Homo sapiens: one gene and its partners. The protein of the gene in region 6 purifies or fractionates together with the protein of the main gene of each other region. This does not show direct contact. Each region holds a gene or a part of one and is shown on either strand. Other genes may lie near its edges.

The links.
Region 1: the proteins of PPP3CA (region 6) and PAWR fractionate together in Homo sapiens (co-fractionation; one large-scale study listed by BioGRID). This does not show direct contact.
Region 2: the proteins of PPP3CA (region 6) and ARHGEF1 fractionate together in Homo sapiens (co-fractionation; one large-scale study listed by BioGRID). This does not show direct contact.
Region 3: the proteins of PPP3CA (region 6) and NCAPG purify together in Homo sapiens (affinity purification with mass spectrometry; one large-scale study listed by BioGRID and IntAct). This does not show direct contact.
Region 4: the proteins of PPP3CA (region 6) and TNPO1 fractionate together in Homo sapiens (co-fractionation; one large-scale study listed by BioGRID). This does not show direct contact.
Region 5: the proteins of PPP3CA (region 6) and XPO5 fractionate together in Homo sapiens (co-fractionation; one large-scale study listed by BioGRID). This does not show direct contact.
Region 7: the proteins of PPP3CA (region 6) and MAT2B fractionate together in Homo sapiens (co-fractionation; one large-scale study listed by BioGRID). This does not show direct contact.

What each region holds. Positions count from the first base shown.
Region 1 is NC_000012.12:79,593,197-79,597,534, forward strand, and holds part of PAWR (PRKC apoptosis WT1 regulator protein), read right to left. Parts: intron 3,463-4,338; coding exon 3,315-3,462; intron 1,238-3,314; coding exon 1,133-1,237; intron 1-1,132. UniProt on the Homo sapiens protein: Pro-apoptotic protein capable of selectively inducing apoptosis in cancer cells, sensitizing the cells to diverse apoptotic stimuli and causing regression of tumors in animal models.
Region 2 is NC_000019.10:41,896,312-41,900,649, forward strand, and holds part of ARHGEF1 (rho guanine nucleotide exchange factor 1), read left to right. Parts: intron 1-65; coding exon 66-171; intron 172-1,003; coding exon of another isoform or gene 1,004-1,015; intron 1,016-1,634; coding exon of another isoform or gene 1,635-1,802; intron 1,803-2,130; coding exon 2,131-2,276; intron 2,277-4,338. UniProt on the Homo sapiens protein: Seems to play a role in the regulation of RhoA GTPase by guanine nucleotide-binding alpha-12 (GNA12) and alpha-13 (GNA13) subunits. Acts as a GTPase-activating protein (GAP) for GNA12 and GNA13, and as guanine nucleotide exchange factor (GEF) for RhoA GTPase.
Region 3 is NC_000004.12:17,820,359-17,824,696, reverse strand, and holds part of NCAPG (condensin complex subunit 3), read right to left. Parts: intron 1,715-4,338; coding exon 1,574-1,714; intron 1,051-1,573; coding exon 927-1,050; intron 1-926. UniProt on the Homo sapiens protein: Regulatory subunit of the condensin complex, a complex required for conversion of interphase chromatin into mitotic-like condense chromosomes.
Region 4 is NC_000005.10:72,889,582-72,893,919, reverse strand, and holds part of TNPO1 (transportin-1), read right to left. Parts: intron 4,135-4,338; coding exon 3,963-4,134; intron 2,111-3,962; coding exon 2,024-2,110; intron 782-2,023; coding exon 674-781; intron 544-673; coding exon 385-543; intron 305-384; coding exon 217-304; intron 1-216. UniProt on the Homo sapiens protein: Functions in nuclear protein import as nuclear transport receptor. Serves as receptor for nuclear localization signals (NLS) in cargo substrates.
Region 5 is NC_000006.12:43,558,806-43,563,143, forward strand, and holds part of XPO5 (exportin-5), read right to left. Parts: intron 3,603-4,338; exon of another isoform or gene 3,542-3,602; coding exon 3,442-3,541; exon of another isoform or gene 2,595-3,441; intron 2,203-2,594; coding exon 2,119-2,202; intron 1,499-2,118; coding exon 1,373-1,498; intron 1-1,372. UniProt on the Homo sapiens protein: Mediates the nuclear export of proteins bearing a double-stranded RNA binding domain (dsRBD) and double-stranded RNAs (cargos). XPO5 in the nucleus binds cooperatively to the RNA and to the GTPase Ran in its active GTP-bound form.
Region 6 is NC_000004.12:101,095,501-101,099,838, reverse strand, and holds part of PPP3CA (protein phosphatase 3 catalytic subunit alpha), read left to right. Parts: intron 1-116; coding exon 117-228; intron 229-1,326; coding exon 1,327-1,472; intron 1,473-4,338. UniProt on the Homo sapiens protein: Calcium-dependent, calmodulin-stimulated protein phosphatase which plays an essential role in the transduction of intracellular Ca(2+)-mediated signals. Many of the substrates contain a PxIxIT motif and/or a LxVP motif.
Region 7 is NC_000005.10:163,508,111-163,512,448, forward strand, and holds part of MAT2B (methionine adenosyltransferase 2 subunit beta), read left to right. Parts: intron 1-3,891; coding exon 3,892-4,086; intron 4,087-4,338.

The DNA of each region.
Region 1 (4,338 bases), on a different chromosome or scaffold from region 6:
GGTGACAAAACTGAGGCCTACGGAAAAGGGGATCTGGAGTATCTTGATCTGGATCAATTTTGTTTTCAGCTCCAGATCAATTTGTATGTTGGACTTTTCTACGACATTTTGAAGGAAAGGTTTTAGAGCTAAAATTAATTCAAAGCCACTAAATTAAGTATTCGCTCTCCAGCTTTAAAAGCATATGATCCAGCTCTTTTTTCCCTGTATTAATCCTTGTCCCAAACACACAACCATCTGGTTAAAACAAATTCACCATAAGTTTTAGTTACAAGAAACATTATTTCAAGACAGACTCTTTACTGTTAAAAAAGCAGACATTTATAGATTTATTCTTGCAGTTTAAAATAATAAATCTTGATGTAATCAATTTGAATCACTTGAACCCGGGGGGTGGAGGTTGCAGTGAGCTGAGATCGCGCCACTGAACTCCAGCCTGGGCAACAGAGAGAGACTCCTTCTCAAAAAATAATAATAATAATAATAAAGAGTACCAATTTTAGGGTTTTTTTTTTTTTTTTTTGAGACAGAGTCTTACTCTTGCTGCCCAGGCTGGAGTGCAGCAGCGCAATCTTGGCTCACTGCAACCTCCGCCTCCTGGGATCAAGCAATTCTCCTGCCTCAACCTTCTGAGTAGCTGAGATTACAGGTGCCCACCACCATGCCCAGCTAATTTTTCATATTTTTAGTAGAGTCGGGGTTTTACCATGTTGGCCAGGCTGGTCTCGAACTCCTGACTTCACGTGATCCGCCCTCCTCGGCCTCCCAAAGTGCTGAGATTACAGGTGTGAGCCACAGCGCCTGGCCAATTTTAGATATTTCTTGAGGCAACTCTGTGCCAGTGCCCTTACATATGGTAGTGACAAAGCGCCTGTCACCCTCAGATTTTAACAAAACAGAGAACAAATCCATAAATCAGTCTATCTCCAAAAGAATAAAATTAAGTGAGCTAAACTGATAACTGCCCAAAGGAAATCAGTTTTTGGAAGAAAATGATACCTCTTACTAATTATTATTTCACTAACAAAAGAACAAAGTGAATAATGCAATTAATAATTTCTTCATATTTATATATTTTCATCCAATTGCCAAAAAAAACCCCTCCAAACCTGAAATATGGTGAAATACTTACTCTATTTAATAAATCAATTTCTTCTTTGAGTTTTCCAATCATTTCCTCTTTATCTTGCATCAGTCTCACAAGTCTTAGGTTTTCTTGTCTTTCTCTTACTACTTCCTGGTAGATACAATTAAAAACCAGTAATTAGGAAGTAATTGTTTATTTATAATCTTCCTAAGTGGCATATATCTCCCCAATTTGGTAAAATATCTTACATACATGAAGATTTCCAATGAATCCCTTAAGACATTTGGTGAAGGAACAAAGATCCCACCACAAAAGGAATCAGAGAATGCACAGGAGATATTAGGATGCTCCTGAGTAAAGCTATGTTTATACAAGTCTTTAACAAAACTAATGTAATAGACTCAATGATTTAACCTCGTGTGTGTGTGTGTGTGTGTGTGTGTGTATGTATGTATGGCAGTGTTTCACTCTTGTCACCCAGGCTGGAGTGCAATGGCACCTTGGCTCACTGCAACCTCCACCTCCTGGGTTCAAGCGATTCTCCTGCCTCAGCCTCCCAAGTAGCTGGAATTACAGGTGCATGCCACCATGCCTGGGTAATTTTCATATTTTTAGTACAGATGGGGCTTTGCCATGTTGCCCAGGCTGGTCTCGAACTCCTGACCTCAAGTGATCTGCCCGCCTCAGCCTACCAAAGTGCTGGGATTACAAGCGTGAGCCACTGTGCCCGGCCTGTGATTTAACTTATTTAGCTTATCACCACTATAAGTTATGAACTACCTTATTTTTTAATGGGTATCTTGTTTGAAATAATTCAAAATTAATTTTTCTTAAAAATACAAAGTTTAAAGGAGATGGCCCAATAGAAACTCTAAACAGAAAAACAATGGTCCTCAGTTTTACTTCTGGCTCTGCCAGTTAACTGATAATGGATAAAAAGAAGGAACTAAAATAGATTACTGATTTTTAATTTTTTTTTTCTTTAAACAATGCAACATCTTTTTCAAAGACATCTTATTTAGAATCCAGGGCACTGGGCTTGGTCAGCCACCTTGGGGGCAAAAGGGAAGCAGAGCTCAAAAGGCCTTGCCCAGAACTTGGCTTCTTTCTTACTAAACCTCCTACAGAGCAATCAACCATCCATATCCCTTAGCTGCTGCCAACTACTAGCAATTCAATCCAAACTCTTGTGGAACTCACGAAGCCTTTCTGGGCAACTATCTTCAAAACTATTAGATTACATATTGTCTAAACTTTTTAATTTAAAATTATGAAATAATAGGCTGGGCACAGTGGCTCACGCCTGTAATTCCAGCACTTTAGGAAGCCGAGGCGGGTGGATCACCTGAGGTTAGGAATTCAAGACCAGCCTGACCAACATGGTGAAACCCCTTCTCTACTAAAAATACAAAAAAAGAATTAGCCGGGCTTGGTGGTGCATGCCTGTAATCCCAGTTACTTGGAAGGCTGAGGCAGAAGAAACACTTGAACCTGGGAAGTGGAGGTTGCAGTGAGCCGATACTGAGCCATTGTACTCCAGCTTAGGCAACAAGAGCGAAACTCTGTCTCAAAACTAAATAAATAAATAAAAATAAATAAAACTATGAAATAATAATTCCAAGAAGAAACTGTTGTTAAAGCTTAGAAATGTGACCTCAAAAAATCATAAATGTTATAAAATAGAAACAAGTTTTAAAAATGAAATTTCTTTACATAACATATATAAATTAGATCTTTAATAATATAGAGAATAATCTCAAGTAAAACAAAACACATTTTCAACAATTACAAAAGTATTCAACACCATTGCTAATTTTAGGGGTTGAATGTCTATGGCACAAACCTGAGACCCTATGGTTAATAAATTTATGCCAAGAGTCATCTGACTTGCACTGAAAGACACTTTTAAACAGGCATATTCTTAGACAAAATTGTTTCAAACACCAAAGATGGACCTAACTCAGATTTACTCCTGTAATTTGTAAAGTTACAAATGAAAATCTATTCAGACAATATAATAAATACACAGTAGTATATATTTGCCAGCTCAGACTTCTAACCACTTCAAAAACAAGGGCTTTTAATATACTAAAGGTAACAGTTGGCAGAAAAGCGCACATATTAAATATTAAGGAATATTATTTCCTTTCTCACTCAGTTGCTATGAAACAAAAGAATTCTAATGGTATATTAATTTTATCAATCTTAAATAACTTATAATCCATACCTTTTCAAGATCTTCAATTTTCTTTTCCAGTGTGCTACTTGAAACCAGAGTACCTGAAACATTTGCATCCCTGTTATATCTAGGGAACCCACTTCTATCTGTTCGAGAATATCTACTTGAGACATCTTCTTCAGAGACACTGGTTGTGCTGTGGAAATATAAACATTTTATTAAAATCCCTAGTATTCAGCAAGAAAAATGCCAAGAATATTTTCTATTGAGCTTAAAAAAATTAACATTCCCCAAGGACATATGGTTATAGTAGCAACTTATTTGTAACTGTAGAAGTTAATCATTATTCCCACACAATGAAAAAAATGTAAAAGTACCATTAATTCTTTCGACCAATATCTACTGAATAGGTGTTAAGTAACGAACACTGTTCTGGATACTGAAGACGTAACAGCAAACACAAACATGGACTCTGCCCTTCATAGAGCTTTTGGTTAAAAGGGAATATAACTAATAATAAAGCAAGATGATCAGTAAAATAAGGTCAGTGATGGATACTATGAGAACTACGATAGGACAGATCTCCCAGATTATCTTTTTTTTTTTTTTTTTTGAGATGGGGTCTCACTCTTGTCACCCAGACTGGAGTGCAGTGGTGCAATCACAGCTCACTGTGGCTTCGGCTTCCTGGGCTCAAGAGATCCTCCCACCTCAGCTTCCTGAGTAGCTGGGACTACACGTATGTGGCCACCACACCGGGCAAATTATTTTGTATTTCTTTTTTCAGAGACGGGGTTTCACCATGTTGCCCAGGCTGGTCTCAAACTCTTGGGCTCAAGCGATCCACCCACCTCGGCCTCCCAAAGTGCTAGGATTACAGATGTGAGCATTGTGCCTGGCCTAGATCGCCCAGACTATGTGTGGTGAAAAACCACTTTCCTTCTTCAAAATTACAATCTTTCATGGACCAACACTTTTAAAAAGTAAAATTAAAATGAACTGCTGGAAAAATAAAAGTTAAAAAGGTCATACAAAATACAAGTCCAAATGTTTTATTAGATTCAGACCCATA
Region 2 (4,338 bases), on a different chromosome or scaffold from region 6:
CCCCAGAGTGTGGGTCTCGTGGCCGCAGAGGCCTTCCAGCCAGCCCTGCTCCCTCCACCCCACAGGTGCTGACGCCCCCCTGGAGCTGGGGGACTCATCCCCGCAGGGCCCAATGAGCCTGGAGTCCTTGGCGCCCCCAGAGAGTACCGACGAGGGGGCCGAAACCGAGAGGTGCCCAGGCTGGGGTGCAGGGGCGGGAGGTGTGGCTTACTGGGCGCTGGTGGGTGGGTGCAGGGTCACCGCTGCCATCTGTGCCTGCCTGTCCCAGGCTCTTGCTCCCCATGCTCCTCTGCTGCTCTCTGGGTCTGGCCATTCCTCTCCCTTCTTCTTTCCTTTTCTCATCTCCCTCCTGCTTCCTCATTGCCCCCCTTTCCTTTTATCCTTCCTTTTTCCTCTGCTCCTTCCTCTCCTTCCTTTTTTCACTAATCCTTCTCCTCCTCCCTTCCTCTCCACCACTCCTTCCATCTCCTTTATTTCCCCCTCCTCTCTCACCTCCCCTCTCCTCTCTCACCTCCCCCATCCTCTCTCACCTCCCCCCTCCTCTCTCACCTACCCCCTCCTCTCACCTCCCCGCTCCTCTCTCACCTCCCCTCTCTTCTCTCACCTCCCTCTTCCTCTCTCACCTCCCCCCTCCTCTCTCACCTTCCCCCTCCTCTCTTTCCTCCCCACTCCTCTCTCACCTGGGTTTTCTTTCCCCACCTTCCATCCCCCTCCGATCTCCCTGCCACTTTTCATTTTTTCAGCCCTTCCTCCCCTTCTCTTTCAAGCCCCCCTGCCCCCTGCCCCCCACCCCCCGCCTCGCTCCTGCCTCCTGGTGCCCGTCCCTCAACCCCCCACCCCTCTGCTCTGTGCCCTGGGGGCCCTGTCCCCCTTACAGCTGGGGGGCAGGCTCTGCCTCCTGCCCGTCCTTGTGCCGCTGCTTTGGGGACCCTTTGGTGGGTGCGGGGAGGTGGGTCAGGTTCCATCTGGGCCCACCTCTGACCCTGTGCCCCTCTCTCCCCAGAAGGTGGAAGAGGTGGGTGCCTGGGCCCTGGGTGGGGGAAGGGCTAGCCCCTCCCCCATTTCTCCCAGCCCCTCCCCTCTCCCCATGGCCACTCCCTCCCCTTCACTCCCTGTGAGGGGTGGGTGGGGACATCACCCTCCCAGTTGAAGAGCTAAGTATGGAAATCCTCCCCACCCCATAACACCCCCTCTGTTGCCATCCCCCTGCCTCAGGGAAGGGAGGGGGTCAGTCCTATGCTCCATCCTGGGTTCCCCATCCCTTCCCCCATCAAATTTCAGTATCCCCCCTCCCCCAAGACCCCCCACTACCCCAGTGCCCCTAAAATCCCACCACTCCTCTGACTCTCTCCTCTCTTCTGTTGCATGTTTGATCCCTGTCCTGGTCACCCTTGCCCCGGTCCTGGTCTCTCCCTGTCTCTGTCCCTGTCCTGGTCTCTCCCCGTCTCTGTCCCTGTCCTCGTCTCTCCCCAATTTCTGTCCCTGCCCTGGCCTCTCCCCACCTCTGTCCCTGCCCTGGTCTCTCCCCGTCTCTGTCCCTGTCCTGGTTTCTCTTCGTCTCTGTTCTTGTCTTGGTCTCTCCTTGTCTCTGTCCCCGGCATCTGCCTGACTCTGTCCTTGGCCTCGGGGTCCAGGCTATCAGGGCGTCTGGGGCGCTCAGAGAGCCTGCGGGTGAGTGACCGCCGCCGGCCTTCCCGGGGCAGCCTCGGGGCTAAGGGCCGGGGTGGGGGCCGCTCCCGGAGCGACGTGGACATGGACCCCAGTTCCGCCACGGCAGTGCTTGGCCCTGCCCGACGAGCCACGTATGTCAACCCTCTCCCTTCCCCCATCCACTAAGGCAGCCTGGAGAATCAGGGAGGGATTGTTGTCAGAGTCACAGAGGAATGGGCGTTGGAGACCGAGGTCATTGAGGCCAACTGTGGTCACAGACCTTGGAGGAGGAGGGGGTAGAATGCTTCTAGAGATCTGGGAACTCTAGTGTGGTCCGATCTAGAGACCTGGTCTGCTGCACGGGCCACCCTGCGGGCATCGAATGCCAAGGCCACTGACCGGGGTTGAACGCTCTAAGAGGCTGAAGGCTGCTTCTTGGGATGGCCCAAGCTGGGGCCCTAACAAGGCCTCTGTCCACAGCCCCGAGCCTGGAGATGAGGGGGAGCCGGGGCGGTCGGGACTGGAGCTTGAACCAGAAGAGCCTCCCGGCTGGCGGGAACTCGTCCCCCCAGACACCCTGCACAGCCTGCCCAAGAGCCAGGTGAAGCGGCAGGAGGTCATCAGCGGTGAGTACTGCCCCCATCACCCCACTGTGGCCAAGGACACAGTCCAGCTCTGGCAAAGGCAAAGACAGGCGCAGAGAGATGTTCATCTTGGTGTCATTTACCATCGGGAGAACTTGAAGGCAGCTTCAAATTCCCTCTTGTTCCAAGTTCAGATTGTTTCAACACAGAGCATTTTGATGGAATGTGAATGCCACTGTGGAAGGGACATTTCCAAACATTTCTAGTAGTGCAATACAGTGCTGATGTTGAGAACACTGCATTTCTGGTGCAAGCTTTTATTTCCTTGCTTGTGAAATGTGGGCATTAATAGTTCCTACCTCAGATATTGTCATGAAGATGAGATGATTTGTGTGAAATGTTTAGCATAGTGCTGGGCACAGAGGAAGAGCATTTTATTTTATTTATTTTTTTAAATTTTTATTTGAGGCAGAGTCTCAGTTGGTCTCTCAGGCTGGAGTGCAGTGGCACAATCACGGCTCACTGCAGCCTTACCCTCCCAGGCTCAACTGATCCTCCCACCTCAGCCTCCCGAGTAGCTGAACAGGCATGTACCACCATGCCTGGCTAATTTTTGTATTCTTTGTAGAGATGGGGTTTCGCCATGTTGGCCAGGCTGGTCTCGAACCCTTGGGCTCAAGTGATCCTCCTACCTCAGCCTCCCAAAGTCTTGGGATTACAAGTGTGAGCCACCAGGCCCAGTCAAGGAAGAGCATTTTAATGAGATTGTTGTTACTAGTTTGATCTTAATTGCTTAGGGGAGAAAAGATCCCCACAGGGGAAAGTTTGGGAGAATGATCAGTATATTAGCAGTGCTTGCTTCTGCGTGGAGAGATGATGAGTGTATCATTTTTGTCTTTTTCCTTTTTTCCTTTGCTAATTGTGTGGTGGCTAGGGAGGCTGGTGGCAAAAAGAGAAAGCTTTTTTTTTTTTTTTTTTTTTAAGACAGAGTTTTGCTCTTGTTGCCCAGGCTGGAGTGCAATGGCACAATCTCGGCTCACCACAACCTACGCCTCCCAGGTTCAAGTGATTCTCCTGCCTCAGCCTCCTGAGTAGCTGGGATTACAGGCATGTGCCACCACGCCCGGCTAATTTTGTATTTTTAGTAGAGACGGGGTTTCTCCATGTTGGTCAGGCTGGTCTCGAACGCCCGCCTCAGCCTCCCAAAGTGCTGGGATTACAGGCGTGAGCCACTGTGCCTAGCCCAAGAGAAAGGTTTGGGACTTGACTGAAAGCTTATTTACAGATTACTTCATAGTGAAAAAGATACTTATTCAAAAATTTTAGGGGAGTAGTTGAGTACTTTTTGGGTCACAGATCCTTCTAAGGACATGATAAAAAAAAAAAAAAACATGAGCCATGTGCTACCCATTAGGACTTTCTGGAAGATGGAAATGTGCTTTATTTGTACTGCTCACCATGGGGACCATCGGCCACCTATGGCTGGTGAGCACTTGAAATGCACTAGGCCAGGCACAGTGGCTCATGCCTGTGATCCCAGCACTTTGGGAAGCCGAGGTGGGCAGATCACTTGAGGTCAGGAGTTCGAGACTAGCCTGGCCAACATGGTGAAACCCCATCTCTACTAAACATACAAAAATTAGCCAAGCATAGTGGCGCATGCCTGTAATCCCAGATACTCGAGAGAGTAAGCCAGGAGAATTGCTTGAACCCAGGAAGCAGGAGATGGAGGTTGCAATGAACCCAGATCACTCCACCACACTTCAATCTAGGTGACAGAGCAAGACTGTGTCTCAAAAAAAAAGCACTAAATACAACTGAGCACTGACTTAAAATTTCATTGCAATTAACGAAAATGTAAAGAGTTGTACACGGCTGGTGACTATCACGTTGGACAGGATAGCAATTTCTTTCCCCAGAAAGAATATGCATAATGTACAAAATCGTGCTTTTAGTCTCAGGGGACTTCTAGGGCCCCTGAAACTCACACATATGCCCTCCGGGGATGTGGGGGTCCCTGGATCTGAGGCTGTCAACCACTGTATAATGTGGCTTGATGGTTAGACACTAAACACAGCTGCAAGCTTGCTGGCAGGTGGGATGA
Region 3 (4,338 bases), about 83 Mb from region 6:
AACAGAAATATGAATTATGGTGCTTAAGATGAGACACTTAAATTCTCTGCCTAAAATCCTCAACCCTTCTCTTGTTCAGCTCTGTAGGAGTTAAACACAGAAAAATGGAATATCCTTTTATTCTTCCTTTGGGTAGACAATGCATAAATAATAATAGCATAAGGAAGGACTTTCCTTTCAGAACCACTTGTATATTGGAATTGGCTGATCAGGAAAAGGCTGCCTCCCAAATGAAAGTATTTAAGCAGATGCTGAATAACAACTAAGCATGTTGTAGAAGGGGTGTATATATAAGGAGAGGATGGAAGAGATGATCTGTGAATTAACCTGCAACTGAAATTATGTGATTTTTATGAAATAAATGATACAGATCTGTCTTTTTTGGCTATGCCAGAAAAAAATAACACTGAAATAGTATTATAGTAAACAATTATTTCTGTATTTATCAAGCAATACAGAACAATACCTTTATGAACAATACCTCATTGAAAAATGAAAGGTAGATTTCATTGCTATTCTTATTTGCAGACAAGTAAAACAGCAGAATAACTTGTCCAAAGCCACAAAGCCAGAAAGTGTCAGATGAGATTCTAAACCCTAGTATGTACAATTTGAGTAAGCTCTCAAAAACACTAGCACCCAGTGCCTCATGGACAAAACCATATCCCCACTTGTAACTTCCTACCAAACCTGCTCCATTTCAAACTGATTCAACAATAACAGGTACACTAAGAGGAAGAAGGTGACATTTTTCAAATATTCTGTGTATGTAAGAGATAGATAATGGTTTTAAGAAATTTTAAAACTCATTAAAGAGACGAACCTAAAACAAAACAGACAAAACAAAAAGTTCTAAACAGAAAATAAGACAGTATTCAATGTCATTGACCAAAACCTCTTTATCAACAATGAGGAAAATTACTTACAATTTGTGTTCTCTTATTATCATCTATAATGATGTGGAGTAGTCTTTCAACAAGAAAAGAAACCAGGGATATTGGGATTGTGGGTAAAATAAGAATCTCCTGTAAAACAGCCAGCAGTTTTTTTCTGCAGTCAAAAAGAACTAATTTAAATATTATTATGACAAAACATGTTTTATCTCTAACATTCACCTACTCTGCAAACTTAATTACATTTGCCTCAGTTCTTTCACTTAGGTTTATCACTATAATAGGTACAAAAATCTGTATGTACAGACTTTAGGTCAAATATTCTTATTCCACACAAAAAAAAATTTTTATAAAACACCCTATGATTTTTAATAAATCAACATGATAAAATGACAAAATACCAGAAATGATTAAACCTTTTAGAAAATGCTACTAGCCTTAATAAATCTAAACAGAAACTTTTAACCAAAAACTGCAATTTCATTGATTTATTCTGAGGAAATTGAACTAGAAATATAAATGTATGTGTATATATGGAAATATGTAGAAGGGAAAAGAAAACTTTTTATACCACTTTAGAGAGCTAGGGTAAATATGTTTAGTTATATTGTAAAAGGACTATATTTCAATATAAGAAATTAGAAGGGCAAATTAGAATGAGTGTTAACATTTAGACATACCTTCCTCCTTCTTCACTGGTATCCAAAGACTTAATAATTAGAATCAATTGTTGACCTATGAATTCTTTTGTCATCAAATTTCCAATATAGGAAAAATCACCTCTGTGTTCTTCATTAACAACTGGAATGCTCTGGATGTAACTAAAACAAGCAGAATTAATAAAGTAGAATCTTTTAAGAAACATCAAACAAGAGTTGATTCCCACCATTAGGTCAGAAAAGGGCCATTTTCAGGTCATATTCGTCTAAATACATATCTATGCCATGTAATTTGGTCTACAAACTCAATTCTATGCCACTGTCATTAACTTTTGCAAACAAACTTATTGATGAATCAAAAGAATTTGAAAATGTATTTTCAATAATGACTCAAATTTTCTATGGGAAATTTTCAAAAGGTACATATTTATGTCTAACTGATAACTAATTATTTCAATGTCACTAGCATTCTCCCAATTACAGATGGTCCCCAATTACAGGTGGCCCAACTTACAATTTTTCAACTTTAGGATGAGTTTATCTGAGAATTAAACTCATTTGACTTATGACATAGCCCCACTTTAAGTCAAGAAGCATCTATCAAGTTCTGAATCCCTTACCCAAAAATCCAATTAGTCATAAAGATCTAATCTTCAGCCGGGCACAGTGGCTCACACCTGTAATCCCAACACTTTGGGAGGCCGAGGCAGGTGCACCACAAGGTCAGGAGTTCGAGACCAGCCTGGCCAAGATGGTGAAAACCTGTCTCTACTAAAAGTACAAAAAAATTAGCCAGGCATGGTGGCTACTGTAATCCCAGCTACTCAGGAGGCTGAGGCAGAAGAATTGCTTGAATCCAGGAGGCAGGGGTTGCAGTGAGCCGAGATCGCACCACTGCACTCTAGCCTGGGTGACAGAGAAAAACTCCATCTCAAAAAAAAAAAAAAAAAAAAAGATTTAATCTTCATCATGCCTAATTATCATTCTTTTATTTTTAAAAATTGTAACAATAGTTACACAAGTAATCCATGAATACAATTATCTTTTTTGAAAAAAATCAGAAAAATAGAAACAATTTCACAAATTTTTATTATTCTTTCTTAGAAACCCTACTAATCTCTGTATACACCACCACCATCAGCTACCTTTTATTTTAACTTTTTATTCTTACTACAGACATCACCACCCAAACTAAAGCCCTTTATAATCCTCACCAAGAAGGCTGTATATTCAGTAGCCTCTGCTTTTTGTGTGGAATAAAAAAAGCTACTTAAAAGCAGAACTAAGAATTGAAGCTTAGACAGCGAAGTGCCTTTAAGATGGAAGTAACATGAAAAACAATCCTGATCAAAAATGTCATTTAAAAAATGTCAAAAATGTCGCCGGGCACAGTGGCTCACACCTGTAATCCCAACCACTTCGGGGGGTTGAGGCGGGAGGATCACTTGACATCAGGAGTTCAAGAAGAGCCTAACCAACATGGTAAAACCCCATCTCTACTAAAAATATAAAAACCAGCCAAATGTGGTGGCAGGCACCTATAATCCCAGCTACTCAGGAGGCTGAGGCAGGAGAATTGCTTGAACCTGGGAGGCAGAGGCTGCAGTAAGCCAAGATCACGCTACTGCACTCCAGCCTGGGCAACAAAGCAAGACTACGTCTCTTAAAAAAAAAAAAAAAAAAAAAAGGCGGGGGTGACAAAAACCAAGTTACAGAAATTGTGGTATAATGTATAATGAGTATACTCTCATGTATTACAAAGTGATGACCAAGAGTAAATAAAAGCTCATAAATTTCTGGCCACAAGATTAGGACTTTTAAGACATCAGCCACCCTTTGGGTTCTAGTAGGAAACTAAGGAAAACTACACTACCGATAACTATCAAAATCAACCAATCAGTAGAGTTACTCTTTTCTGACAGGCTAAAAGAAAACCTTCATTTATACTCATCTTTGTATCTCTCCCCACTTCTCCAGCCCAGCTTTAGCAAAATGCACAGCATCTTGACTGAGTTTTTTTTTTTAAGTAAATTCAAACAGTTGTTTAATTAATAGATTAAAAATCCTCAACTGCATAAATACAACTTAAAACTGACCCACCAATTTTAGTTACCATGAAATCCTAACCATTTATAAAGACATTTATTATAATGAAGAGACCACTCAAGAAAGTATTTTAAAGTCTAAGAATTTATATTTAAGATGGCTTTCAACAAATTTTATTGTTGTCCCTTTTACTTACTCTAATTTGATAATCCTCATTTCCTCGTTTGCTCTTTAAGTGAGCACCTTGGTTAACCAAAATTGTTTCACATCAGAGTTCTTAGTCATTGAATCTACTGCCTAAAATATACAGTATGCCTGAAAACATATTCCTGAGATTATCAGGAAACAATTTTTCAATTTAATTTTGTTTCTGTACTCAAGTATACTAATCCCATCTAGTCATGTTCCTCCAAAAAGACACTCATTCTATTTTTTAGGTATTCTTTCAACAATCACTAAAATAAATTTCTGAAAGTTTTCTTTTTTTTGTTTTTTTTGAGACGGAGTCTTGCTCTGTTGCCCAGGCTGGAGTGCAGTGGCGCGATCTCGGCTCATTGCAAGCTCCACCTCCCAGGTTCACGCTATTCTCCTACCTCAGCCTCCCGAGTAGCTAGGACTACAGGCGCCTGCCACCACGCCCAGCTAATTTTTTTGTATTTTTAGTAGAGACGGGGTTTCACTATGTTGGCTAGGATGGTCTCGATCTCCTGACCTCGTGATCCACCGGCCTCAGCCTCCTA
Region 4 (4,338 bases), on a different chromosome or scaffold from region 6:
GTACCTAAAAAGCTGAGATGATGGCAAGCTCAAGGAAATATTAGGGGTTCCTGCCATCTTGCCTGTTTCAATCACAGCAAGTTTACTTTAACCAATAAAGTGTACATTTATAAATGTTGGGATTCCATGCAATTTCAGTTTAATAATAAAAAAACAAAGCTGATGTAAATGTTAACTTTAAAAAACCATATTCATAGCAGTAGAAAATATTCATACCTATACAAGGCTTAACATGCTGAAAGCAAGCTTTTGTGAGGTCACCTAACAGGGCAAAAGAACTCTGTCGAACTTCTGGCATTTTATCCTACAAGAAATAAGAAGAAATTAACCCCAATGTGACACAGAGAAACAGGCTTCAATTCATTTTCACCTTTCAAGTCTCACCTGCATGCACTGATACATTAGTGTCAGGATGTTACTTCGGGCTACCAGCTGTTCAATGTTGCCTCCAAGTCCTTCAGCCAGGCCACTCAGTAAATCAAGAGCCACTATCATAAAATCTTTATCTGGAGCTTCATATTGATCTGGTTGAGCATTGTTTAGCTGAAATTAGACACAATGTTTTTTGTAAGTTTGGTTTTAATTAACTACTTAAAAAGTCTGTATACATTATACCTATCTTTAGAAAAATGTCCACCATGTCAAGAAGAGGAAGACATTTTAAAAAAATTACCATGGCTTGTGCAAGAGTCTTCTGTACTAGGTTTACACAACGCTGATACACAGGTTCACAGTACGGAAGGAATCCAGACTGCAGTGCTGTGGCAACTGAAGATAGGCACTAGGAAGAATAAAGTACACATGCTAAACTTTCTGGGTATACTGAAGATTATGATGAATGCTTGAAACTGCGCTCAACAGGATCCTGATCATTTATGAGCTTGCTCTACTAGTTTCTACAGTAGCAGGTTCCCCTCCCCCCACCCCAACCCTCTCTTTTGGAAGCCATTCATTGTTGTTAGTTTGCCAGCCAATCAGGTCAGGTTTACTCAGAGGAAGCGTTTCTACAAGAAACATTATCTTTAAAGGACAGATTGAGTATTATGTGTTCATATTTTTCCCTCAAATTGAAGAGATTCATTTCATGCTCCCATCCTGGTCAATGTTGTGAATGGACTTTACTGGGCACATTCTGAGATCCTGCCGGAAAGTAATATATATACAGTTGGCCCTCTGTATCTATGGATTCAACCAATCTTGAATCAAAAGTATTTAGAAAAACAATTAAAATGATTTAAAGTATATTGGGAGGAGGTGCATAGGCCATATGCAAATACCACATCATTTTATATAAGGGACTTGAGCATCGCTGGATTTCTGTATCCAAGGGGAGTCCTGGAAACAATCCCCTGCAGATACTGAGGGACGACTGCATACAAAAAATGAACCATAATGATTCTTCTTGTTTTGCTGGGCCCAGAATTGCTCTTGGTCATAGAAAATTTAACTTCTTTGGCTAAGAACAATCCACGGTAGAAGATGGTGAACCTTGAAATAACAGGGAGCAAGAATGAAAAGGCCTGAACTGGTTCTATCAATGTCAATTCAACTAAGTTTAAGTGACTACATTTCACAGTGTGTTCAGTTACGAGAACATCATATAAAAGTTTGCAATGAAAGGGGTGTTAAAAAAAAAAGTAGTTAAGTACACATGGAAACATTTTCAAATTTGAAAATAAGTACCTCCTTACTGGCACCAAATCCCACTACTCAACATATATGTATGAGTGAAAAGATATATATATATATCCCGGTATATATATCCTCCCAGTATGTTATCTACTCTATACTATATAGAGTAGTATGCTATCTACTCTATATAGAGAGTAGATAACATAAGAGAACTTAAAACTCTAATTTATTATCAATTAAGTAAAGCAGGTTAGAGAACAGTATGTATCATATAATTTCCTCCGTCTACTTCAGAATATAAATTTATTAACACTTTTCTTATCATATATACCCATTTTGGATTTGAACATGTGTTCTTGGCAACAGATTAAATATTACTAGCCCTGCATACCTCAAGTAAAGGGAAGAGATCTTTATCTTCATCCTTTAACATGTTCCATTTCTGGATCAGTGGAGGCATTAGCATCTGAATATATTCCTATTTACAATGATGAAAAACATATAAAATTCCACTATCACATGTCAACAAGACCATTTTGAGTCTTTGAAAATTAAAATCCATTTTGAGCAATTGTGTAAAATCATTACAAAAGGCATTTTAAGAGTCATTCTTCACTCTGCACAGTCCCTTTTAAAGTTTTCCTTTCTGTTGCCTACCTTTATACTTACATGACCGTGTTCTAGTTTTAGATCTAGAACTAGTGATCTACTGATCTTTTATCCTTGTTGAAAAAAAGAGTCTATCAATAAACACACAGCTAATCAAAATCTATTACTTAAAAAAGTCACAATCAAGGAAGATCTAAGTTTTTCTCTTTTTTTTGAGACGGAGTCTTGCTCTGTCGTCCAGGCTAGAGTGCAGCGGCGTGATCTCAGCTCACTGCAAGCTCCGCCTCCCAGGTCCACGCCATTCTCCTGCCTCAGCCTCCCGAGTAGCTGGGACTACAGGCACCCCCCACCACACCCGGCTAATTTTTTGTAGTTTTAAAGAGACAGGGTTTCACCGTGTTAGCCAGGATGGTGTCGATCTCCTGACCTTTTGATCTGCCCACCTCAGCCTCCCAAAGTGCTGGGATTACAGGTGTGAGCCACTGTGCCCAGACCTAAGTTTTTCTCTTTAAGTTACAGAATATTTTTAGTTCTGGGGCTGGGCATGGTGGCTCACACCTGTAATTCCAGCACTTTGAGAGGCTGAGGCAGGCAGATCACTTGAACCCAGGAGTTTGGGCCAGCCTGGGCAACATGGCAAAACTATCTCTACAAAAAGTTGGCCAGGAATGGTGGTACACGCCTGTGGTCTCAGCTACAGGGGAGGCTGAAATGGGAGGATCGCTTGAGCCCGGGAGGTGGAGGTTGCAATGAGCTGTGATCACACCACTGCACTCTAGCCTAGGTGACAGAGTGAGACCTTGTCACACACAAAAAAATTCCTTTTAGTCATGGAACTGTAACGTGTAATATGGCTGTTACTATATAGTACATTTTTAAATCAACAGGTAAACTTACACAGATGCTTTTGTAGAAAAACAAACTTAAAATCATTTAAGTGTCAAACTAAAGAATGATCCATAAAACGACTAAACATAGTGATCATGTAAACAGGGGCACAGACTCTAAAGACATTCAGAAAACAAACCCCCACAAAAGCCAAACCAAACAACCAACAGCAAAGCAAACCTATAAACTGCCCTGTACCAAATCTTAAGTGTAACTTAAAAATAAAACAATTTCTTAAGACTTTGGATATAGCAATCATATAGAAGTCTATTCAGCAGGGTATGTGGAGCTATATTAAAATTCTACTATCACTTAAATCCTCATTAGACAAATCCATCCTCCTCTTCTACTAACACTACTGGAAACAAGGCACTTTTGCATTACTATTTAGCATTTTTAAACCTACTACCCCAATTTCTATTTGTTTTATACAGTATACTCCCCGTACCTGCTGAAAAAACAAAGATGTCTAGATATGGTACTCTAAAGCTACAGTGTTTATGAAGTGGTAGATTCAAAAACATTAGGAATTAAGTAAAAGCAGATATCCAGATTATAAAAACTTTTTTATCCCTTTGCTTTAGTCATTCTAAAAAGTATCAGAGCATTCATGTGAAATGCTGCTGTAGTTTCCACACCAAGTATGTATTTACTTTAAGAATACCACATGAAAGGGGATATACTTGCTGCCTTTGTAAGATCTATACTCTTAAAGTAGCTAACGCTAACTATTCACATCTCCCAAAACATCTTAATTTCCAAATATATGCTAATCTATTAATTGTAACTATGCTACACATTATTTTCCCTAATAGTTCTTAACAGATACTTACTGGTTTGTTTAAATGATGTCCTACTGAATCTGCTAATGTTCCTATGGCATCGTAAAGAATGAGCAGGTTCTTATGCTGGTATTTACTAAATGCAAAGACCAGGGTATCAAGTATATAAGCAAGGTAAGGAACAAGTTCTGTACAAGCCTCCTCTTCTAGGGTAGCAAAGGCACTGTTTAAAAAAAAAAAAAAAGAATACTTATTGACTGTAAGATATATCTAACTCTTAATTGCTAAAATGTTTATGTTCTGTTTTACCCAATCAGGAATTTCCTAAAATGGTCTAAGCCATCTGTTAATGAAAGCCCTGGTCATCAGCACTGTGAATTATTTACCGATTTCTTCCATAGCACTTGCCATAAATGATAATTATGTT
Region 5 (4,338 bases), on a different chromosome or scaffold from region 6:
GATACCATCCTCCAAGTTCCTCAGGGAGAATTAAATTCTTGAATTCTTTTAAGGTCCCCAGAAAAAATGACAATTCAGTATGTAGTAAGGAAGAAAGAACTGAGAGCTACTTGCCTCAAATACTGAACACTGAGAATAAACTTGTAGAACTTTGTATGTTTCATTCAGAAAAGAATTGAAGACCATGGCAGAAAATAAGAACACAGTGTGGCCGGGTGCGGTGGCTCACGCCTGTAATCCCAGCACTTTGGGAGGCCGAGGCGGGTGGATTGCCTGAGCTCAGGAGTTTGAGACCAGCCTGGGAAAAACAGTAAAACCCTGTCTCTACTAAAATACAAAAAATTAGCCAAGTGTGGTGGTGGGCACCTGTAGTCCCAGCTACTTGGGAGGCTGAGGCAGGAGAATTGCTTGAACCCAGGAGGCAGAGGTTGCAGTGAGCCAAGATCGTGCCACTGCACTCCAGCCTCGGTGACAGGGTGAGACTCCGTCTCAAAAAAAAACACAGAACACCAGTGTGTGCTATGTGCTAGGCAAATTCCTTAAGAAAATAAGGGGACCCTTGAATGTGCACCATTCTCTGATGTTACAAATTGAGATTAACAATCTGTCAACTGCAAGAGCTCTTAGCAGGGAATTCATGAGCAACTCTCTACTGAGGTAGTGAGCAATCTTTGCTTCCACTCTCACTCCCCTCATTTCCCTTTGTAACTCTCACTTGGCCTCCAGAAGCAATGCTTAGATATTGCCTCCTCTTGGAATCTTCCTGACTCAACCCTCCTATGTACTTCCAAAGCATTCTGCTTTTAACCCCTGAATAGCAATTATTACATTGTATGGTCACTGCTCTTGCCCTAGCACCTAGCCCAATACTTATGATATATTAAGTACTCTCATATGGAAGAGCAGTTATAATAACCAGTAAGGACTGATTTCTTCCTAAGGAATAAGAAAATATGTCCAGTAAAGGAATCTTAGTGATGAAGAAGGGCTGTTAATAATGCCAATCAGTCTTTTTTATGTTTCCCCCGAGACAGGGTCTCACTCTCATTGCCTAGGCTGGAGTGCAGTGCTGCGATCTCAGCTCAATGCAGCTTCAACTTCCCAAGCTCAGGTGATCCTCCCACCTTAAGCCTCCCCAGTAGCTGGGTCTACAGGTGCATACCAACATGCCCTGCTAATTTTTTTGTATTTTTAGTAGAGACGAGGTTTTGCCATGTCGCACAGGCTGGTCTCCAACTCCTGGGCTCAAGCGATCCTCCCGCCTCAGCCTTCCATAGAGCTGGGATTATAGGCGTGAGCCACCGCACCCAGCCTCAAAGTCTTATTATGTGTATTCACCTACATTCCACATGTTTAGATTCCCATTATATACCTTGACCAAGTTAGTCATGGAAGCACGAAGATATTTTGGTATTATTGCTAATAGCAAAGGATCACGGGACAGGATTTCATGCCTGAAGAGGGCTCCCCAAGTCATCTGAGTTGAAGAGCGTAGAAACTAAAGAGAAAAAAAAAAGAAAACGTCAAAGGATTTGGATTCTATATAACCCAGATTATTACTTAGCAGTTATCAACTACATTTTTTCATAGAAATAAATCTGTACAATACTTTGAAGCTGTCTCTACTGCAATTTATCAGTAATGACCACCCACTATGGACCACATGTTAGTAAGACAGGCTGTGGATCAAGGAAATTACCTGGAATGTGAGCTGAATTTTACTACTTTCTCTTCTTTGCAAAAAAGGATACTGGAATCTCAGAGTGATATTAGAAGGACAATTTTGAACAGAGTGAAATTAATTTTATAATACAATTAATCAGACTTTTGTTTCAAAAATCTTTATAACTTTAGTACTAAACCACCTGGGACACACCTCACATGTGACTGAGTACAATCAGAATATTACCTAAAGGGAAAAGCTGCTGACCTAGACAAGTGCACTGTTTGGCTCAGGAAGAAGAGCCAATAATTCTCTTAATGAAATGACACTACGGTCATTCCCCAAGGCCTGAAGAGTCACATTTTATACATGATCTACAATAATATTTCAGGACACAGTGCTTGACATTGGTTCACCTAACTAAACTTTTGAGAAGTTACCTGTATAAAGTTTACCTGACTTGGATGGGTTGTGAAAGCAAGAAAAGATTCCAGGTATTTTCCAAAGTTTGATGGTGTTTCTACATCAGAATCTGCACCCTGTAGGAGAAGACCACTATATTAACGGTGTTGATCGAGAAAAGCAGGAGAGGAAAAAGCAGGGAAGTAATAAAAACAGATAAATTAAACCCTCAAAAAATGTTGTTTCAAAAGGACTTTGTATTTCCTTTTGGCTAAAGAAAGGCATCACTTCAAGGGCTAAAATATAGGTTACTTTGCCTACTCAATCATCATCATTACTTTGCCTACTCAATCATCATCATTAAAACCCATTCTGTGGTCAAACAGTAAAATAAAAAACACTCATTTCAGAAATTACAGAAAGAAAAAAAATCTGTATTACTTCCTCAGACCTTACCTATTCACATCTCTGTGTCCCAACCTATTACCTAATCCCTTCAATAGTTTCTTTTCTTTTTTTTTTCTTTTAGATGGAGTCTCACTCTGTTGCTCAGGCTGGAGAGCAGTGGCACGATCTCGGCTCACTGCAACCTCTACCTCCAGGGTTCAAGCAATTCTCCTGCCTCAGCCTCTCGAGTAGCTGGGATAACAGGCATGCACCACCACGCCTGGCTAATTTTTGTATTTTTAGTAGAGACAGGGTTTCACCATGTTGGCCAGGCTAGTCTCAAACTCTTGACCTCAGGTGATCTGCCCACCTCACCCTCCCAAAATGCTGGGATTACAGGCATGAGCCATTGCACCTGGCCCCCTCAATGGTTGCTTATCTCTGAAACTATCCTCTCTAACCATTTAAACCACCACAAAAAGATATAACATCAATTGCAAATGTCTGTTCCAATGTCCTATCTTCCAACTTATAAGACTGAGTATTAAATATTTCTCTAATGGCAGGTTTTCCAGGTCAATCAGACTCAAGTTTTCTTTTGTGCTCCAATAATACATCCCTTAGATTGGGAAAAGAGTTCTTTATTCAAGTCCATGTTTCGTGGGCTAACAGAATGTAAAAGCATAAAGCACTCAGCAGATTGAGGTTCTGTAAGTACCAAAATTCACAAGAAACCAACGTTGACTTTATGGAATAATAGACGTGGATATCTGACGTTGGTATAACTATTTTATTGTTAAAAGAAATTTAGATCACTCAAACACTATTCTATTAAGATAATTTAATCTATAGAATCATGCAATAACTTGTATGGCACTGCCCCATCAGGCTAAAATCAATGACATTTGCAACCCCTCATTGAAACATAAGTTTCTAAATGCTCTTCCCAAATGGGCTTGAAGCTCTCCAGAAAGCAAACACTAGCTCACCAGCAATGCACACAGCTGATTGCCCAGCGCACACAACACCTGACAGAGCCTCTTCAGAAAGACGTAGTGTTTTTCTACCAAACCTCCTCCATCAGCAGTCCTGTAAGATGAGAATTCCTTATATCACCAACAAAATTAAAAAGGCTGTAATAAAAACATCACTTTGTGTCTCATTTCTCCAAGTCATTTAGTTAGGTCTGTAATTCAGCAGAATTCCAATAGCTTTGCTAAATTAAAAATTTTTTAAAATCTTTTTAACTTATTTGGTGGCAAAACCTGACCTAAAATGATATAGGACTATTCACACAAACAGCAATTAATAACTATGAGTGTGAAAAGCAACTATATTAGCTGTCTTCTGGAGGAGGACAGTATCACATAAAAGGCAAGGACCTTGGGGTAAACGAGGCCTAGGCTTTAGGAACATTGAAGGACAGGATGGTATTATGGTGTCCAATGCAATCTCTGGAGTTTGACTACCTGGGTTGGAATCACCGCTTTATGAACCATGGTTGTGGTATGGCACCCACAGCACAAACAGAAACGGGACACCACTTAGTATGAGTGTCATGATGTCTATGGAACTAAGAATTGGACCTAAAAATAGTAACTACCCAAAAAACGTTATTCATTTAATTAACAGGATCCCTTAAAACAGTGCTGCAGTCTCTACAGGGAAGGAAGCCATGAAAAATGTGTATTAGAATGGGTAGTAAGAGATTTTAAGTAAAACACATGTGCCTCATACCTTTTCATTTCTCCTTGGGACCAAAAGTAAAGAGTATCAAAAAGATGGTGTTGCAACAGATTCAACTACTTATAATATATAGTTCTGCCTGACTTCCTGGTAAGAAACATGTTATCAAGAAATGCTTTAATATTTTTTCTTTTTTTTTG
Region 6 (4,338 bases):
GGGGGACTTTTGGTCATGGTAATACATTTTATTCATGTCTTTATGATATGTGAGCAATGAAATGCATAAGTGTTAAGGAAAAATATTTATTTTTATATTATTTTTATTTTTCTCAGTGTGTGCTGTATTTGTGGGCCTTGAAAATTCTCTACCCCAAAACACTGTTTTTACTTCGTGGAAATCATGAATGTAGACATCTAACAGAGTATTTCACATTTAAACAAGAATGTAAGTATACTTCAACCTCCTTCCTTTAACACTATATGTGCTAAAAAGTAATTTTAATCAATAATAAGATACATACAATATGATCTATTGCCTAAAGTCAAAGACTTAAAGTGACACTCTTTCATATTATCCTATATTTCTTTCTAAGCATGGACATTTATGAGAATTCAGAATTTCTTTTTAAATTAGAACTTCTTTATAAAGTGATTGAAGAATTTGAATTAAGATTTGATGTAATTTATCCTAAGAAACAAGTGATTTAGGGATGCTACTGTTTGGAACAATAATTCTACTCATTAATCTCACATTACTCAAAAAACGCAAATGGAGGGCAAATTCAACCCTATGCCTCTGTTTTGGACCCAATAAATGAATACTAGCTTCTAGTGAATCTTATAAAACTGAAGATGATGTCATTCTTTAGACATAGACACTAGGAGTGTGGAGTGCTTTTTTCAATTTCTTTTTCCTCCTTACAATTTTTCTTATTATTCACTGAATCTTACAAAGGTATAAAACCTTACATTTTTGTTTTATGTATAAATACAGTTAAATGGAAGAGCTGGGAATCTCTCTATACATATCAATATTTTTCTCTTTCATTTAGTCCTATATTCAATGGAGCATAAAGACTTCTCCTCTTAAAACATTAGATATAAGTCATGGGAAAAGCAATGTGCAGTAAGATAGAAACAGCTTTAGGAAATGTCTTGCCATCTGCTTTTCTACAAAATCGTTAAGGAATATCAAGCAGCTTTATGGCTGTTTTTCTATTGGTCTTCCAGTTGTTCATGTACATTTTTTTGGTGAGACGTCTGCAGATAAATAGCCAGAATGTATATAAAAATTCTCTTGCTATACAAAACGTTATGAAAATTATAAAGTATGAATTAATAAATGACAAAAACAGGAAATACTAGATATAAAAGATTAATATGTTACTTTCAGAAAATCTTAATTATGTTTTGGAATTTTGTAGTATGTGCCTTTATGTTAATAATAGGGTCCTAGCAAGAAAACTTCTCAAAAAACCAAAACTATTTCAGTGAAATGATCCTGCCTATAAATCATAAGTATTCTTTTAATCACTTCTAAAAGGTAAAATAAAGTATTCAGAACGCGTATATGATGCCTGTATGGATGCCTTTGACTGCCTTCCCCTGGCTGCCCTGATGAACCAACAGTTCCTGTGTGTGCATGGTGGTTTGTCTCCAGAGATTAACACTTTAGATGATATCAGAAAAGTAAGTTTTGTTATTTTCCAAGTCTAATCATTTTGTGCGCTACAGTAATAAATAGAAGACATTAATTACCCTGCCTTTATCACTGACTTTATTCTTTTGAGTTCAAATAATTTAAAGTGGTCATGAATCGCTCCTTTGTGTTAAATTTTTATCTAGAAAGAGAGATATGTTTATACTTGGAAGAATTTTTATCTCTACAACCTCAGGGTTGGTCTTACCATCTGACATGTGTCTTTGGAAATATAAAATATTTGACCTCTAAAAAAAATATGCCTTATCATTTCCATTTGGCTTTTTTCAAACAATCCGTTGTATATTCATGATGTGTTATGCTAGAAATGTTGCTTTGCCCTTGGGAAAATATCATAACATAACCATTAAACTGTGCTCATTTTATGGTTTTTTAAAAATCTATTTGTTACAACTTGAGACTTTTAAGTAGCAATCTAACAAGGACAGTGATAATATTTTATTAATTTTACTGAGTGGCTGAGTGAAAAACTGGACTTTTTAAGAAGTATTTGTAAGAAGTTTTTAAGAAATACTCCAGTTTAGCATTGGCTATTAACAGTTGTTTAAACCAGCAAAAAGATGAGTTACATTGAATGTGGAAGTGGATTGTGTCTCTTTCTTGAGTAAATCTAGTAACATGGGATAGTTTTATGTAGTACAATAGATAGACAATCTTTTATTTCTTTGGTATGTTTCTAACTCTGATTGCAATGATGTAAAAGATAGAGAGTAATAAAAAATCGCAGTGTATTTTTCTTGGTGCCAAAATCGGACCAAAGGGAGAAAGTGATGTAAATGTTTTCTTAGGTCATTTTAAAATAATATTACTTGGAATTATTTTAAAGTATGATAATTTCTTCACATTGATATTTATAACATATGTTATTGAAAATTTGTGCCCACCATTAAGCTTTCTATCTAGGAAATCTAAGCCAAATTTTTTCTGGAGGAATTATAAACAGTTGAAAACTGTATTTATCTTCTTTCCTCTACTTTTAGAGACCTAAGAAAATACGCTTGTACTTATCCCATAGAACAGAGGGGTGAAAATAATTCTAACCTTTTATTATTATTCTCACCAGTAATTTTAGCAAGAATAAATTGGTCACATTGTTCTAAATTACTGTATTTGAACTATAAAGATTGGAATTTTGCTGAGATTTCTTCTAAAGATACATACTACTCAGTATATATTTAAGCCTAATGTATGATAGGTAGACTTTGGCTTCAAATAAGTGATGCACTAATCTCAAGGTGTACAGAATTTATTTCTTAAGTTATAGGTTCACTTAAGAATAACCATGGGCACAGTTCAAATTCTAGATCTTGCTTATCATTAGGGGCATTCATACAAAGACTCCCTTGGTGTCACTTGTTTGATTGATTGCCATTTAATTGTTTTTTTCCATTTCTTCTGAGTTTGGAAACTTGATTGCTAAGTCTGAGAAGTCTATATGATGAACATTTGCAAGTTAATTCTATCAGCTGCCATAAGTTATTAAATTAGTAAACAGTGTTTTCCCATTGTGTTCAGTGGAGAAGGAAAGCAAATATTTTATCTATTCATGTATCCATGTATCATATTAACCTGATAACCACTTATTGAAATAGGTTTGGAAAATGAAAAGTCAAATTACAAATAAGTATAGTAGTTTCTGTTAGCAAATGATGGGCATGAAAGACATGCATTTATGTTTTATTCTCTTGCCTTGATCAAATTTCATGGCCTTGGATGGAAGATGAGAAACTTACTAAGTGTCCTCCTTCAAAGGGGGATTAGTGAAAACTTCCCTCAAAATAGTGTTTTAATTATTTGAACAAAACTGATACACTGAATAGAGTTCTATACTGTAGAGAATAAATAGAAAGGATAAGGCTATTGTACTATTTTGTTTAAGACGCAATCACCAGCAAAAAGGTTGTAAACCTCTACTACAAAATGAATAACCATTTTCATATAGCTCTCATTTGTAGTGTTTCTTTAATACTTTTGTTAATGAAACTCATGGTTTTGAGGAAATACTTTAGTAAATTATGAATGTATTTGCATACCATAAGTCTCTACTACCATGAACTCAATATTCTTTTAAAGTTCATTAGTTTTTAGAGAAAAATTATTTTCAGGTAAAATAAAACATTCAAGTTCTTCCTATCATTGAGGTTCAAGTGTTCAAGTATAAAAATAATGTGTTTACTTTCCTATTGGAAAGAAAATGCATGCTTTTTATTTTAAAATTCAAGCGAAAGCACAATAAATAAACCTTGTTTCCTGCTCTGTGTCTTTGTGTCCATTTTTGCAAGACACTATTTCACACTTCTATAGAGCATAGAGCATTGGTCTTTGCTCTATATTTAAAGTACAGTAGAGATGTGATGCTGGTTCAGTATAAAATTGTTTCTTTCTGGGCCAAGCATGGTGCCTCACGCCTGTAATCCCAGCACTTTGGGAGGCCGAGGCAAGTGGATCATGAGGTCAGGAGTTCGAGACCGGCTTGACCAACATGTTGAAACCCCATCTCTACTGAAAATACAAAAATTAGCCAGGCATGGTGGCGCGCGCCTGTAATCCCAGCTACTCAGGAGTCTGAGGCAGGAGAATTTCTTGAACCTGGGAGGTGGAGGTTGCTGTGAGCCGAGATCGTGCCACTGCACTCCAGCCTGAGTGACACAGGGAGACTCCGTCTCAAAAACAGAAATGTTTCTTTCTGCATGAATATAACTAGCTCATTCTGTAATCTGATGGATTTTTTTTAAGTAAATAAACTTCACATCGTAAATTAAGTAGATTTTTTAAAATATCACCTAATATCCCTAGGACTTACTTCCCAGGATATTTTAGATATTATATTCAATT
Region 7 (4,338 bases), on a different chromosome or scaffold from region 6:
TTGACTTGACCAGAGAAGCAAGACTCAGGTTCTGGTTCCAGCTTTTTCTCTTTTACTATAGACAAAACATTTAACACTGGACTTCTTGTTACTCTCTTTGGAAATAATATCTCTTCTAACAAGCTGCTGGGTTTTTTTGTTTTCTTTTTTTTCCTCTTGCTCTTTCACCCCGTCTGAAGTGCAGTGGCTCAATCTCTGCTCACTGCAACCTCTGCCTCCAGGGTTCAAGCGATTCTCCTGCCTCAGCCTCCCAAGTAGCTGAGATTATAGGCGCCCACCACCATGCCCGACTAGTTTTTCTATTTTTGGTAGAGACAGCGTTTCACCATGTTGGCCAGGCTGGTTTTGAACCCCTGACCTCAAGTGGTTGGTCCACCTTGGCCTCCCAAAGTGCTGGGATTACAGGCGTGAGCCCTGGCACCCGGCCTCAAACTGCTATTAAAAAAACAAAAACAGCTATGATTGTATACTTATATAACACGTTAGTTTTCTTTTTTTTGGTTTTTTTGTTTGTTTGTTTTTTTGAGATGAAGTCTAGCTCGTGTCCCCCAGGCTGGAGTGCAGTTGTGCGATCTCGGCTCACTACGACCTCCGCCTCCTGGGTTCGAGCGATTCTCCTGCCTCAGCCTCCCGAGTAGCTTAGATTACCTAAAATTACCTAGAAAAAAATATGAAACAGTGTACAGTACCCAGCAGTCAGGTGTCAGTGCTCAAGATTTTTATTAAGAGTGACGATCTGAAGTGCAAGCATTTACTGAAATGGAAATGATACTGCACAACATTTTATTTGAAAATTAACATGTTATAGGCCGGGCGTACTGGAGGCCTTACATAGTAACCCAGGGGTATAAGGATATAAAGTTGCATTTTCTCATACAACTCCACTTCCTTTTTTACGTTAAGGTATTATATTCCCTAAAGAGCCTTGTTCTTCTCTATACTTAATACTGCATCAACTCCAAGAAGCTCTTAATTAAAAGAAGATCATCTGGGCTCTTAAGTTGCATTAAGTTAGCAAAAACTACTGCAAAACTGTGACGATTCATAAGATTTTTTTTAAATTCATTTAACAGATGTTAAAATGAAACTGTACTTCACAGAGTCAGTGAAGTACACAGATCTTAATTCATTGTTTAGTAACTTTTGTGGATTGTATAATGCTTTGGCTTCTATTTCAAGTTTTCTTTTTTAAGGGGGAAAGATACTGTTGTCATTTTGAGAAAGGTAGATGGCACTTTTTGTTTTCCTTGTGTAAGAGAAACGGATTGTTATGAAAGCTTTGAACTTTCCTGGAGTTCGAGAGTACACTGGTCCTCTAAGTGCGGTCTCCAAATCACGATGATCAGCATCACTTGTTGGAACTTGTTGGGAATGCAAATTATCAAGCCCCACCCCAGACCTTTGTGATCTAAAAGCCCTCCAGGTGATTCTGATCCACACTGAAGCACGAGAACCACTGACCTTAGGAACTGTTACCTGTTCCTTTGCTTCCGTAGAGTGAAGTAAAAAGTGAGGAACTCAGAAGAAACCAAATTATCTCTCTTTTAGAGTATTTTTTCAGGAATCTTTACCGTATTTATCCTGTGTAAATTGTTTTCTCTGACTGTATCTGTACTAGACTTGGCATGTTTTCTCCTCTTTACAGTTCAATCTTTGTAGAGCTGTTTTCTTGCCAAATTTCAAAGAAAATATTTTGTTGGCTGAAATCCTTGTTTTCATAGATCAGTTGGTTTAGAGCCAAGTTTTGCAACACAGCCTGAATGAAATTGCTTTCAACTTTTAAAATGTCTTGAAATTGGTTGAACTAAGGAAAAATAATCCTAAGAATTTACCTTTATACTATCTTTCCCTGTTAGTCTTTTCATTTTACGTTTTTGATTGCTAGAAATACTTGATTTTGGTGTCTTTTAAAAAAAAATGTATGTATTCGGCTAAGTAATTTAATTGAGCTAAGGGCTTTAAAAGGTCTTTGGTTATTGTATATGTATTTAAAGATTTTGACAGCCCAGAATTAGGTGATTATAACAACTCTTGAGTTAAAATAACTGGTTTGTTTTTAATAGTAAAAGTTGACTTTATTCAAGATCCTGGTTGGAAACTTGGTGTTACCCATCTTGGGAAGAAGGGACATTTTTGGAACTATGCTTGGAAACATAGAATTTAAATTTTTTCCTAAATAGTGGTTCTTTTTCATTTCTGTGTGTAATAATTTATTTGTTTCACAGTAGCAACACAGATGAGCTTAAAATATTTTTTCTTATCCTTTGCGTTTATTAGTTTTAGCTTTTTTTTTTTTTTTTTTGAGATGTAGTCTTGCTCTTGTTACCCAGGCTGGAGTGCAGTGGTGCCATCTTGGCTCATTGCAACCTCCGCCTCCTGGGTTCAAGCAATTCTCCCGCCTCGCCTCCCGAGTAGCTGGGATTACAGGCACCTGCAACCACGCCTGGCTAATTTTTTTGTATTTTTAGAAGAGATGGGGTTTCACCATGTTGGCCAGGCTGGTCTTGAACTCCTGACCTCAGGTGATCTGCCCAGCTTGGCCTCCCAAAGTGCTGCGATTACAGGCATGAACCACTGCACCTGGCCAATTTTAACTCTTCTATGTAGGTAAATTTTGGGTTAACTAAGGAACATTTACCAATTTGGTTAAACTTAGAAAGCATTTAAGTGTTGTAAGGACCAAGTTTTTTTTCCTCCTCGTATATTCCTTTGAAATGTTGATTAATTCTCTACCTTGGGTCCATCAAAATATGATAAATTATTGAGACTTGAAAGAACATTTGGGATTAAAATCTGAAGACCAGAAATGTCAGCTTGTAAATATATTGGCAGATTTGACGCAAATACTAATCAGGCCTTAAAATAGGTAAACTTAAAACACGTTTCTCTCTAGAGACTCAAAGAGCACCTTCAGTCGTATCTATAGAAGCAAGACAAATTGTAAAGTCTTATAAACTGAAGAATGTAATGTTGTTATTTACTATTTAGGTACTTGGAGCAAAAGTATAAAAAAAGTTGCTGTTTACTAACTCATTTGGGTATTATCAATCATAAAAATAGGATTTTCTGTTAACATAGGAAATATAAATCTACATAATTCCTTGCATATCATCTTGTGTTCCTTTCCTTGGGTAAGATTATTATAACTTTTTTAATTAAAAAAATTTTTTTTTTGAAACAGGGTCTCACTCTGTCCCCCAGACTGGAGTGCATGTCATGATCTCTGCTTATTACAGCCTTGGCCTCCCAGGCTCGTGATCCTCCCACCCCAGCCTCCCAAGTAGCTAGGACTACAGGCATGCACCACCTGTAGCTCAGCTAATTTTTGCTTTTTTTTTTTTTTTTTTTTTTTTGGAAGGACGGGTTTTCACCATGTTGCCTAGGCTGGTCTCGAACTCCTGGGCTCAAGTGATCCACCTGCCTTGGCCTCGCAAAGTGCTGGGATTAAAGGCATGGGCCACCATGCCTGGCAAAAGCTTTTTCTTAAGTGATACAGTTTTTTATATGGTTTGATTAATCATTGTTCTAACTTTATTTATTACATTTTTAAGTTGTGTTTTCTGCTTTTTTTATTTTAAAAATTTATTTTTATAAATACAAAGTATATTTTTACTGTTTTTTTGTATTGAGATGGGTCTCATTATGTTACCCAGGCTGGTCTCAAGTTCCTGGGCTCAGCGGAGCTGCCTGCCTCGCATTCCCAAAGTGTTGGAATTACAGGCATGAGCCTGATGCCCGACCCTAACTTAACTTTAGAATTGGCTTGCAGATATGGGACATGAGTCAAAATACGTAGAATTAAGACATTTAGGGAACAACGATGGTGCCTAATATATTTGAGAGAACTGTTTTCAAAGTTAGTAACTCTTTCTATCCGCCTTCACCTTTTAGGAGGAAGTTAACATCCCTAATAGGAGGGTTCTGGTTACTGGTGCCACTGGGCTTCTTGGCAGAGCTGTACACAAAGAATTTCAGCAGAATAATTGGCATGCAGTTGGCTGTGGTTTCAGAAGAGCAAGACCAAAATTTGAACAGGTTAATCTGTTGGATTCTAATGCAGTTCATCACATCATTCATGATTTTCAGGTATGATTTAGGTTATTTTAAGATATACATGAACAATATTAAGAGTTGTCTGGATGATACAGAAACTATCCTTGCTCTCAAGGAAATTACTATGTTTGAAAGCTCTAAAGTTGTATTATGCAGTAGCATTTTTTTCATTTAGCATGACATGGTATATGTAAACCTTAAAGTTAAATTTTGACACGCTGACAAAGACAAATATGAGACATTTTATAAAATGCTTATGTTTATAGAGTGCCTTCTAAGTAATAC